Linked DNA regions of Homo sapiens: all the other regions are reported to be linked to region 1. The links are microRNA targets in miRTarBase. Many come from high-throughput screens and were not tested one by one. Region 1 holds a microRNA gene; each other region holds the end of a gene's coding sequence. Distances are from middle to middle.
What was found. Region 1 holds the annotated microRNA hsa-miR-610 (UGAGCUAAAUGUGUGCUGGGA, at 1,286-1,306, shown strand). A microRNA usually pairs through its seed, bases 2 to 8, with sites in the 3' UTR of a target mRNA and lowers its output. Matches are read on the target gene's strand: a 7mer-m8 pairs with bases 2 to 8, a 7mer-A1 pairs with bases 2 to 7 and ends in A, and an 8mer does both.

Region 1 (4,246 bases):
CTTCCTTGCTTTGAGTTGGGACTCTGAACAGCTATACTGTAGAGGGCAAATCAGAAATAGGCAGGACCTCAGGAAACTACAGTTTAGTATCAAATTACCTCAGTCTCTGAAATAGGACTGAGGTGATTCTGAATTGCTAATGCTACCTAGAATATGAAAGAAGGAACTGTAAATATTCTCTGAGATATTTAATATCATGATCAGATGCATCAAAATATTCTGCAAATAATTTTGCAAATACCTGACTGGCACACAAAAAATTTGCATGCATATGAGGAATTAAGACCACATGCAAGAAAATCAGTCTAAACAGATCCAGTGGTTACAGACTTTGGAATTCTCAGACACAGACTTTAAATTATAGTTGTCTCTCAGTATCTGTGAGGGATAGGTTGCATGACCATACTAAAATTCATGGATGCTCATATCCTTTATATATAAAATAATACAGCATTTGCACACAACCTATACAATCCTCCCATATGCTTTAATAATCTCTAGATTACTTACAATACCTAATACTATATATATATACTATGTAAATAGTTATGATGCATTGTTCAGGGAATAATGACCAAAAAAAGTCTATATGTTCAGTACAGATGAAACCATCCATGTTTTTTTTTTTTTTGATTAGTTGGTTGAATCCATGGATGCAGAACCCATGGAATATGGATGGCTGACTATAATTATACCCTTTGTGCTTAATAACAATTTTTGCAAAGATATGAAACTATAAAAAAGAATAAAATGGAAATTCCAGAATTGGAAATATAGCGACTGAAATTAAAAATTTTATGGATTTAAGGATCATTTGATAAAGCTGAAAAAAGAAAGTAAACTGAAGAATGTGAGAAACAAAATTATCCAGGAAGAGAAAAAAACATTAAAAGCAAAAGAGTAAAGGGCATAGACAATACAATGGGAAAGTGCCATGCAATATAATTGGAGTCCCAGAAGTAGAGGAGAGAGCAAAAGTGACAAAAGCAATAGGTGAGGAGATAATGGTTAAGAATTTTCCAAAACAAACAAAAGATAATGCAGAAACAAATTCAGAAAGTCAGGAACCCACTTAAGAGAAGTAAAAATAAAGTCAACTAGGCATAACATAATAAAACTATTACAAGCCAAAGACTGAGGAAATATTTCAATAAGCCAGAAGACAGATTGTATTCAGAGGGGCAACACTTAACATAAAATCTGACTTCAACAGACTATTATTCTCTGTGAATAAGGTCTTACATATTAGCCCTTCACTCCCAACTATTTGTCTATTTGTCTTAGGTGAGCTAAATGTGTGCTGGGACACATTTGAGCCAAATGTCCCAGCACACATTTAGCTCACATAAGAAAAATGGACTCTAGTTGGGAGTGAGGGGCTAATAAACACCAGATCCCAAGAAAATTCCCCATAATGGAAAATATAGGCAGATTTGACTATATAAAAGTTAAAAGTCCAATAAATTGATCAATTATTGCTCAACATATATATAAAAAAAAGCAGCACCAAATGAACAAAGAGTTATTAGATACGAAGTGCCAAGTAAAAAACCAAGCAAACAAAAAGCCCCTCAAACCCATAACAAATAAACAAAAATTTCCACTAGTGTGAATGAGCAAAGGATACCTGACAGGGGATGAATTGGCCTCATCGATAATCTGAGAGTTACACATTTTAAAAGACTATGCAGCTGGGCGCGGTGGCTCACGCCTGTAATCCCAGCACTTTGGGAGGCCGAGGTGGATGGATCACGAGGTCAGGAGATTGAGACCATCCTGGCTAACATGGTGAAACTCTGTCTCTACTAAAAATGCAAAAAATTAGCCAGGCATGATGGCGGGCACCTGTAGTCCCAGCTTCTTTGGAGGCTGAGGCAGGAGAATGGTGTGAACCCAGGAGACGGAGCTTGCAGTGAGCAGAGATCGCGCCACTGCACTCCAGCCTGGGTGACAGAGCGAGACTCGGTCTCAAAACAAAACAAAACAAAAAAAACAAAACAAAAAAGACTATGCATTATTATTGCTGTTGTTACTATTTTTGGTTTAGGTAAAGATGAAACAGTTACTCTCATGGGTACTAAGTACAGAAAAAAATTATGAAAAGCAGTTTAACATGATGCATTAAAAAAAAAATGATATGTCCTTTAACCTGGCAAATCAGCTTCTAGGATTCTGCTATGCACGCACAAATGTGAATACACAGATGTGTTCTCTGATGTACTGTTCACTAATAGAAAAAAGGTTAATTAAATTATGGTACATCTATTCTCTGGATTCTCAAAAACAATAAAAAAATGAGGTAGATTCTTCATGTATGCACCCTAAAAATGTTCATAATAAACAAATAAAACCAATAAACATAATAAACTAAACAAAAAAGTTGCAGGTCACTATGTGTAATGTGCTAGCATTCACGTGAAACCTAACAAAAAGCTTTATGTAATACATGTGTATTACACACATACTGCAAAGATAAATATTTAACAGCATTTAATCTCTGAGATAGGGCATAAAATTGAGGTTCTGAGAAGAGTTGAAGGTGGCAGTCTACTTCTTTTCTTCTACATTGTCTGAATTTTTTTCTTAACTAAGATTATATGTTAGCTTTGCAATTAAAATGTCTCACACATACTTTTATGAGAGAAAGAGAAATATCAAGTGATTTGTCAATAGAAAAATAGTAAACTCTACACTGTTAGTTGATCTTAAGAACAGATTATTATCATAAAATATGATATGATTAATTATAATTTCCTGCCCTTAATAGAGGTTACATTTTAAAGAAGGATGGGAAGCAAAATTGTTCCATCAAAAATAGATAAAATGGGTTAGGCACAGCAGCTCATGCCTATAATCTCAGCAATTTGGGAGGCCAGGGGAGACAACTGCTTGAGCCCAGGAGTTTGAGGTCAGCCTGGGTAACAGTGATACTTTGTTTCTACAGGAAAAAAAAAAAAAAAAAAAAAAAAAGCCAGGAGTGGTGGTGCATGCCTGTAATTCCTAGCTACTTGTGGGGCTGAAGTGGAAGGATTGCTAGAGCCCAGGAGGTGGAGGCTGCAGCAAGCTTTGATTGCACCACTGGACTCCAGGCTGGGCAACAGGGTGAGACCCTGTCACCAAAAAAAAAAAAAAAAAAAAAAAAAAAAAAAAGAAAAGAGTTGTAAAATGAATTTTACTGCTAGAGTTATATAGAACATCAATGCATACTTGTTCTAGATCTTTGGAAGATACTGGTTAATTGAAATGACTATAAAGCTAATTTTCCCATTAATTTTCATAAAATAGACAAACCTATTAAAATTAACTGTTCTATAGATTGATATACAAAGGTTCTCTTTAGAAATAATGTTACTATTTACTTAAAACGAAAGTTATACTTACAACAAGGAATAGGCTGAACTGGTCCAAGTTGTGGAAAGGTCATAAGAACAGAAATCCCTGGTAGATCGTTTTGCTTTGGTTGTTCGGCAGTTTGGTCAGCCCAAACTACCACTTTTTTCCTCTCTACCAAATGTTCGATCTCTTTGAAGTCAGATTCAAAAGCAGCATTTGACAGGCCGGCTTCTTTTAATGTGCAATATTGTTTTCTTAGGGTTGGAAGTAAAGCATTCAATACTCTATATACAGAAGATGAGAAGAAAGGAGAGATAAATATGACATTTTAAACACATTATTTTAGTTCTTTTATGTAACACCCAAAGCATTAGCATATCATTAAAATAATTTCCCATGTATGAACTGAGTTCTAGTCTCAGATTGTCTTCACTTGCTTCCATATGACCTTGGACAAGGCAAAAACTGAAGTTTTTCCTCTGTAATGTGAGGGACAGATAAATAGCCACTACTTATAATAGGAGATTGCTTTGAGGGCTAAATGAGTTAAGTATATTTGTTTATTTATTTTTTAGAGACAGGGTCTCACTCTGTGGCCCAGGCTGGAGTGTAGTGGCATGATCATCTCATTGCAGCCTCGAACTCCTGGCCTCACTTGATCCTCCCACCTTAGGCTCCCAAGTTGCTGGGACCACAGATGTGTGCCACTACACTGACTAATTTTTTTATTTTTTGGTAGAGATGGGGTCTTGCTATGTTGTCCAGGTTGGTCTCAAACACTTAGCCTCAAGAGATCTTCTTGCCTCCACCTCCCAAAGTGCTGGGATTACAGGGATGAGCCACTGTCCCTAGCTAAATGAATTAAATGTACATAAAAGCTTTTTGCAAAACATAATGTGATTTCCAAACTACA
Region 2 (4,246 bases), 59 Mb from region 1:
TATGAGAGAAATTACATTTAATGCTTTTGCCTCATTGGTAATGTTAGCTCATTTATTGTTTAGTTTCCTGTGAATTCATTCATCATAAAAATAATAATGAACCTAATTTTCTATTTGATACAGTCTAGTGGAAAGAATTCTAGAAGGGTTTAAAATAATGGTTGTAATCTCTGCGGTTTCAGATCTGGGGATTATCTCTTTAATCCTTAATCCTAACTGGATTATCTCTTTAAATAAAATATGAGACAGTGTATCTCGAAGAAGAGCCTTCATGTGACTTGAATCTGCCATTGAATTTAGATCCTTTGCCACGTTAGCCTTTTCTGTTTTCCCATCCCACATAAGATAAGTCAACTAAAATGAATTATTTTATTTTATAAACTATATTAATACTTGTTTACTGTATTCTTTGTTTTACAGATTTGCTGTCATGAACCGAAAAGTCCTTGATGTTTTTGGTACTGGTGCATCTAAACACTTTCAGGATTTCATCCCCAGGTTGGATCCAAGATACACAACTGTAACACCAGAGTTGCCCACAGAGTTTTCCTGAAGATGACTGTAACTTATTAATGTGACTAAATGTTTCATCTTGAAGAGTTAATTATGTTGAACACAAAGGAGGGGGCCCAAGCTCGAACTTCAGTGTTATTTCAGTTAGAGATACTCTTTTCATTTGTTTTGTTTTTCTTATGAATCAGAAATTCAGAAGCTTTTTAGGAAGATGTTGCTTAATAATTAAGCTTCCTCCATAGCCAGAATAAGATTCTGGATCACTGTAGTGACTGACATTATATATTATTGATCAAATTATGTCCACAAGCAATATTATATAATCTACGTAGAAGTGTAATAACAAACAAGAGTACACTTAAAATTACTTTAAAAGATGTCTTTAGTTCATTCCAATATAATTCTTGATTAAAATTAGGATTATTTCTACATTTTAGGATTTACAAAGGATCACGGGTACATGGATTTGGTCTATATATTTTTTTAAAGTTTTGAATTGGTATCTGTAGTAGTGGAATGTTATAGATTTGAAGTAACTCTCCACGGACAGTGCTGCTTTCGTGTAGAGCAATTTAATTGGAGAAGTGGCCATTCTTACTTCAGGGATGCAAAGATGGGTCTCATACCATTTGGATAAATGTCGTGGTATCCATGCTTTTTTTCAACTAATAACATCATCTCTCTTCATGACCAGTTAATTGGGCTATTTGGCAGCCCAGTGAACCTATGTACTAATGGCAAGTTAGGGGCAAATGGAAATGGACACATCCGATAAAGTTGAAATGTATGTTTTAATCTTTCACAGAAGTATTACACTTGAATATTTAAAAACAAAACTTTTAAACTTCCTATAGGTTTATGATGTTTGTTTTCATTTATATGGACATAATCCTTCATAGCTCAGTTTATATGCCATTGTTGTATTAGAAGGGATCAAAATCCTATGGAACAAAGTAGTCTTGGCAAGTTGGCAGTTTGTGTCCTCTCAGCTGTTTAACTTATGTAATGGATGTTTTGCACCTGAAAACACTATAAAAATCCAGTGGTTGTTTAAAAAGTCCATTTGTCACTAATTCCATTCAGGTTCTCCAACCTTCTTCTTGAATATCATTGTCACCATTTTTACTGTTAGAATAAAGAGGTGACACCATAAAGTCCTGCTGATAATGAGAGTAGTTCAGGACAGCTGTGATTGAAATATGGTCGCTATTTACAGTTTTTCAGGGAAAAGTTATACTTTTCTATGTTAATAAAGAGCTGAAGTGGTCTACAGTTAATGTGACATGTAGGGATGATGATATTTTTAAAATACATTTTGTTGCTAAAAAGTTTTTAGGCCAGTGCAAATTATGCAGTAGAACTTGTGTTGCAAAAGGAATTATAACCCATACTTTAAAAATGCTTAATCCCTCATATTCAATTTCATCAAGCCTTGTATACTTCTGCTTAAATGTAATTCAATCCTTGGTTGTTATGGCAAACAGAAACCCAACAAAAAGACAGACTCTGGTACTATGGTAACAGAGCCACTTTATCATTTGGTCAAAATTTGGCATTATGATTAGCTTTGTAGAACTGACCTGTTTATTTGGCAATGCTGTTAAAGGATCATTTCGGTTTCAGACTTCAAAGTTGATTAATAAATTTAATCTTAACTTTTTATTCACTGGAATCAAAACGATGGTTGGTACTGTGTTTACTGTTTAAAATGAAGTACTAAAGCCCTGAGAACTGCACCTCATTTTCTTTATCCAGAAATTGTGCTTATATATTTTCCTGTCAGGTTTAAAAAGATGTTTTAATTCATAAATTATTGTTTTCATTGACATTAAAAGACTGTGATATTGAAAGATGAATTACGAAATTTGCTGAGATTGTTTAGTAAAATTTTGCTGGTCAAAAAGGTGTATTTCTACAATTTACCTTTTCATTTTTATAAATTGCAGTCATTTTTTTAAATTTTATGTAAAATGTAAAATGAAATAGCTATCATGAAGCAGAATACAATGATGAATGTATAGGTTGAGTGAATAACCAATTTGCAGTGGTGGATTGAGAAGTCCAGTTTGATTTCATTGGGACAGACTGCAAAGTGTAGTTGTTTGAGCAAACACAAAGAAACTTTGTGTTTTTGAAGACAATCAGAATGATTACCTTTCTACCTCTAACTAATCAGGTATTGATTGACAACTTTTTGGCATTATAAATAAAGTAAAATAGATCTCTGCATTCCAAAATATGTTTTTTAGTTTATTTATATCCTGAAGAAATGGTAAGTTTTCACTGGAACTGATTACAGTAAACAATAATATGTCCCCTTAGTCTTTCTGACATTTTTATATAGATTGAGATTGAAAAACCGTGCATTTGGGGCAGTGGTATTATGGTCATTTCGTTGCTATTTTCTGTTTTAATAAAATCCTAGAACTAGTAGCAACCGAGTAAAGATTGAGTTTGCAAGATAACAGATTGTCTCAAATCTATTCAATTCTCAGCAGTTTTTCATCAAATAATTTCAGGATCCATTTTATTACTCATTTTTGAAGTAACACCTTTGGTTTAGTTTTATTTTCCCATAAATTCTGCTTTTGCTTCTGTAACTTTTTTCTTGAACTATAAGCATAGTCATCACTCAGTTGATATCTAGTTTATTTTTTGCCTTCATTCGTTGTTTAGTCAGTTGTTATTTAATTTAGAATTTTATATTTTTTTGGCTCTCAGATTTTATAATGAACTTTTATTAGACTGAACATGTATGTTTTTGATGGAATCCAAACTGAGCAAATGTCACACAGTATTTTCTTGTTGTGCTCGAGTGTTCGTCTCCTTGTAGATTGTATCTAGGCTAACATTTCATTTAGTTGTTAATGCTGACGTAATTGTTTCCTGCTTATATTTTATCATATCCCTGAGCTTCTGTGTGCTCTACATTTCATAGGTAATGAAAAGCAATGTCCTTTACTCTCAGGGAGCTTCGTCCACTTGCCTGTGTCACAACCTCTCCCTTGGTGCTAATTAGGAAGCTTCTTGTGGGACTGAAGGGAACTGACCACTGGAGCAATGGCCCAAATGTTGTTTTTGGAGCAGAGAAATTATTAGCCCAGAGATTCCTTAAATTCTCCGTGTGATTTATTTTTTTATTTTTTGAGTTGAGGTCTAGCTCTGTTGCCCGGGTTGGAGTACAGTGGTGCAATCATAGCTCATTGAAACCTCAAATTCCTTGGTTCAAGCAATTATTTCCCCTCAGTCTCTAATAGCTGGGACAACAGGCATGTGCCACCATGCCTGGCTAATATTTATTTTATTTATTTTTTTTTTGTAGAAACAAGGTGTTGCTATGTTGTCCAGGCTGGTCTTAAACTCCTGGCCTCAAGTGATCCTCTTGGGTTGGCCTCCCGGGACTCTGGGATTCCAGGTGTGAGCCACGGTACCTAGCCATATTTTTATTTGTATGAGTATTAAGTAGTTTGACACAGCAACAAAGTTGTCCTTTGTTTCCCAAAGGCAAAAGTATACATTTCTTACTAAGATATCTTATAAACATTCTCTCTCCTAACACCTCCTTCTAGTAATCATTTTCACATAGTAGAATACTTCACTCAGCTGAAAATGAGTGGCCAAGAAAAAAATACAAGAAAAGGAATAAGAAGTGATTATTTTCTTTAGGGCTGCACTTTGAATGTGATGAGTAATAAGGTTACCTTCATTGTGGAGGTGATGTTTACAATTGCCT
Region 3 (4,246 bases), not on the chromosome of region 1:
CTGTGCCCTGCTCCCCGATTCCAGGAGAGGAGTCAGATTGTCTGACAGAGTATGAGGAGGACGCCGGACCCGACTGCTCGAGGGATGAAGGGGGGTCCCCCGAGGGCGCAAGCCCCAGCACTGCCTCCGAGATGGTGAGAGTGGGTGGCCCAGGGTCCCCTCACATCCCCCAGAGGGTCATGAGTACAGTGTCAGGCAGGGGAGCCGGGGGCGTATTTGAGATCCTGTGTGTGCTGGGTGCTGGCTGACATGTGACGCATCAGTGTCCCGTGCTGGGTGACGTGTGTGTGACCTTCCCTCGCAGGAGGAGGAGAAGTCGATTCTCCGGCAACGACGCTGTCTGCCCCAGGAGCCGCCCGGCTCAGCCACAGATGCCTGAGGACCTCGACAGGGGTCACCCCCTCCCTCCCACCCCTGGACTGGGCTGGGGGTGGCCCCGTGGGGGTAGCTCACTCCCCCTCCTGCTGCTATGCCTGTGACCCCCGCGGCCCACACACTGGACTGACCTGCCCTGAGCGGGGATGCAGTGTTGCACTGATGACTTGACCAGCCCCTCCCCCAATAAACTCGCCTCTTGGAAATGGCTTCCTGTCGTTTTCGGACTGGGGACCCACCTTCTGTGCTCAGGATGGCTGGGGCTGGGGTCTGACACCACCTGGTGCTTGCCCCCCACAGGGAATGCCTTTCTAGAATCCACACGGAGCCCCACTAGGTGCTTGTCCCCACTCTGCCCCTTCTCTGGCTCCTCAGAAGCCAGTGCTGACTCCGGACCACAGGGCCAGACATTCCGTGCCACCCTCCCGGGCTCACAGGTGCTCTTGGGGGCCCGATATGGCACCCCTCAATTTCTTTCTGTGTGTTTTTTGTTTTTTGTGTTTTTTTTTTTGAGATGGAGTCTCACTCTGTCACCCAGGCTGGAGGCTGGAGTGCAGTGGCATGATCTCTGCTCACTGCGACCTCCATCTCCCGGGTTCAAGCGATTCTCCTGCCTCAGCCTCCTGAGTAGCTGGGATTACAGGCGCCCGCCACCACACCCAGCTAAATTTTGTGGGGGGGTTTTTTGGTTTTGTTTTGTTTTTTGTTTTAATTTTTGAGACAGTGTCTCTCTCTGTCACCTAGGCTGGAGTGCAGTGATGCGATCTCAGCTTATTGCAGCCTCCAGCTCTTGGATTCAAGTGATTCTCATGCCTCAGCCTTCCAAGTAGCTGGGGCCACAGGCGAGCACCACCATGCCTGGCTAATTTTTGTATTTTTTGTAGAGAAGGGGTTTCACCATGTTGGCCAGTCTGGTCTCAAACTCCTGGCCTCAAGCCATCCACCTGCCTCAGCCTTCCAAAGTGCTGGGAATACAGGCATGTGCCACCACACCTGGCCTTAATTTTTGTATTTTTAGTAGAGACGGCATTTCATCACGTTGCCCAGGCTGGTCTCAAACTCCTGACCTGAAGTGATCTGCCCGCCTTGGCCTCCCAAAGTGTTGGGATTACAGGCATGAGCCTCCTTGACCGGCCAGAACGGTTTATCTTTTTTATGAGTGAATAATATCCCATTGTGTAGATGGACCACATGGTATTTATTGGTTCATCTGTTGGACGCTTGAGTTGCTTCCACCTTTTGGCTATGGGGAGTCATGCTGCTGTGAACACAGGTGTACAACTATCTGGATCCCTGCTTTCAACTTCCTTGGCTAGATGCCCGGGAGTGGAATTGTTGGGTTACATGGAGATTCTGTGTTGAATTGAAGAAACGCCAAACTTTTCCATAGCGGCTGCACCATTTTAAATTCCCACCGACTGTCAGTGCCTCGAGCTGTCAGCACCATGGACAGGGATGGTGCTGTCCGAGGTGCTACTGACGCCCCCTCTGTGTCTTTCCCTCCAAGCCCCCCCACCCCCGCCGATATCCCTGCGCCCTCCAGATCTCTGAGTTTTGAGGGTGGAGGGGGACATTTAGGGGAAAGTTCAGTCCATAGTTTGGCACCTACTGGTGTCTGTATCTTAACTGGCTCCCCTTCCATCCTGGCTCACAAGGCTCCAGTTGTACCAGCCTTCATTCTATTCCTCAAATTCTCCATCGATTCCTGGCTCAAAGCACAGAATTGGGCTTTTTACTCCCTGTGTAGCTGATTAAGCCTGTCCTCAATTGTCACCTCTTCGGACTGTGTACAGTAACTTCCCTGTTCCCGTTGGCCCCTGTCTCCTTGCCTTTAAAGCACTTCATTAGTCACAGTTGCTTCACTTGTTTTTATTGTTTTCATTGTTTATTATTACTATTATTATTATTATTATTATTATTATTATTATTATTATTATTATTATTATTTTGAGACAAGATCCCACTCTGTCACCCAGGCTGGAGTGCGGTGATGTGATCACGGCTTACTGCAGCTTTGACCTCCTGAGCTCAAGTGATCCTCCCACCTCAACCTCCCGAGTAACTGGGACTACAGGCGCGAGTCACCACATGCAGCTAGTTTTTTTTTTTTTTTTTTTGTAGATATGGGGGTCTCACCATATTGTCCAGGCTGGTCTCAAACTTCTGGGCTCAAGCGATCTACCTGTCTTGGCCTCCCAAAGTGATGGGATTACAGGTATAAAGTGTTGTTGGTGTTGTTGTTTTGTTTGTTTGTTTGTTTGTTTTTGAGACAGAGTTTCACTCTGTTGCCCAGGCTGGAGTGCAGTGGTGTCATCTCGGCTCACTGCAACCTCTGCCTCCCGGGTTCAAGCTATTCTCCTGCCTCAGCCTCCCAAGTAGCTGAGATTACAGGCAACCGCCACCACACCTGGCTAATTTTTGTATTTTTAATAGAGACGGGGTTTCACCATGTTGGCCAGGCTGGTCTCTAACTCCTGACCTCAGGTAATCTGCCTGCCTCAGCCTCCCAAAGTGCTGGGATTACAGGTGTGAGCCACCACACCCGGCCTAAAGTTTTTAATTAACTTTTTTTTTTTTAGAGACAGGATCTCACTCTGTTGCCTAGGCTGGAGTGCAGTAGTGAAGTCATAGCTCACTGCAGCTTCAACCTCCCAGGCTCAAGTGATGCTCCCACCTCAGCCTGCCAAGTAGCTGGGACTACAGGCAAGCACCACCACACCTGGATAATTTTTAAAAAAAAATTTTGGTAGAGACAAGGGTCTCGCTAGGTTGTCCAGGCTGTTCTCAAATTCCAGGGTTCAATTGATCCTTCTGCCTTGGCCATCCAAAGTGCTGGGATTACAGGCACGAGCCATCACATCAGGCCTCACTTGCTTACTTGTTTCTCATCTGTCTCTGCAAGACACACTTAAATATAAGTTCCATCACTGGAAGAACCTTGCATAGAACAGCACCTGGCTCATGGTAGGTGCTCAGTAAATGTCGAATGACATCAAGCTCCAAAGACGAAGCAAAGATCCCTGAGATAACTCCCACTCTCTCTCTTTCTCTCTGATTTTGTTTTGTTTTATTTTGAGATAGGGTCTGGCTCTGTTGCCCACCCTGGAGTGCAGTGGCGCCATCTCAGCTCACTGCAACCACGCCCAGGCTTAAACCATCCTCCCACCTCATCCTCCCTGGTAGTTGGGACCACAGGCACATGCCACCACACCTGGCTTAATTTTTGTATTTTTGATGGAGACAAGGTTTTGCCATATTGCCCAGGCTGGTCTTGAACCTGGGCTCAAGCAATCCAACTGCCTCAGCCTCCCAGAGTGCTGGGATTACAGGCGTGAGCCACCTCACCCAGCCGACAATACGTTTTTGTTGCTGAAGTCACCCCATCTGTGGAACTTTGTGACAGTGAATCCTAGCAAATTAACATAGAAGCCCTTGGCTAGACTCAGCTGCCATGATGTGGATGGTGTAATGGATCAGGCAGGACAAGTCAGGTTATGCCGCTGTAACAAATAACACCAAAGTCTTGGGGGGCAAAAACAATACAAAAGTAATTTCTGAGCTGGGTGCAGTGGCTCATGCCTATAGTCCCAGCTACTTGGGAGGCTGAGGCAGGAGGATTGCTTGAGCCCAGGAGTTTGAGACCAGCCTGGGAAACATAGCAAGACCTCATCTCTAAAAAACTTTTTAAAATCAGCTGAGCATAGTGGCATGCACCTGTAGTCTCGGCTATTTGCGAGGTCGAAGCAGGAGAATCGCTTGAGCCCAAGAATTCGAGGCTGCAGTGAGCTATGATTTCACCACTGCACTCCAGCCTGGGCGACAGAGTGAGACTGTCTCTAAAACAAAAGTAGTCACTATCTGGAATGTTTTG

Region 2: the mRNA of TMEM135 is a reported target of hsa-miR-610. Seed matches in the 3' UTR shown: 7mer-A1 at 1,410-1,416 and 7mer-A1 at 3,710-3,716.
Region 3: the mRNA of PNPLA6 is a reported target of hsa-miR-610. Seed matches in the 3' UTR shown: 7mer-A1 at 446-452.

Annotation. Positions count from the first base shown.
Region 1 is chr11:28,055,545-28,059,790 of GRCh38, forward strand. MIR610 (microRNA 610) reads left to right here and starts at 1,271; the gene lies at 1,271-1,366. It overlaps KIF18A (kinesin family member 18A), which reads right to left. Exons shown (of 17, transcript NM_031217.4): 13 at 3,382-3,617.
Region 2 is chr11:87,320,781-87,325,026 of GRCh38, forward strand. TMEM135 (transmembrane protein 135) reads left to right here. Exons shown (of 15, transcript NM_022918.4): 15 at 421-4,246. The coding sequence ends at 553. It also overlaps the pseudogene LOC100420680. Among named protein-coding and RNA genes, the nearest start is that of TMEM135, 280 kb to the left of the region's middle.
Region 3 is chr19:7,561,184-7,565,429 of GRCh38, forward strand. It overlaps PNPLA6 (patatin like domain 6, lysophospholipase), which reads left to right. Exons shown (of 32, transcript NM_001166114.2): 31 at 25-134; 32 at 305-581. The coding sequence ends at 379. Among named protein-coding and RNA genes, the nearest start is that of PNPLA6, 28 kb to the left of the region's middle.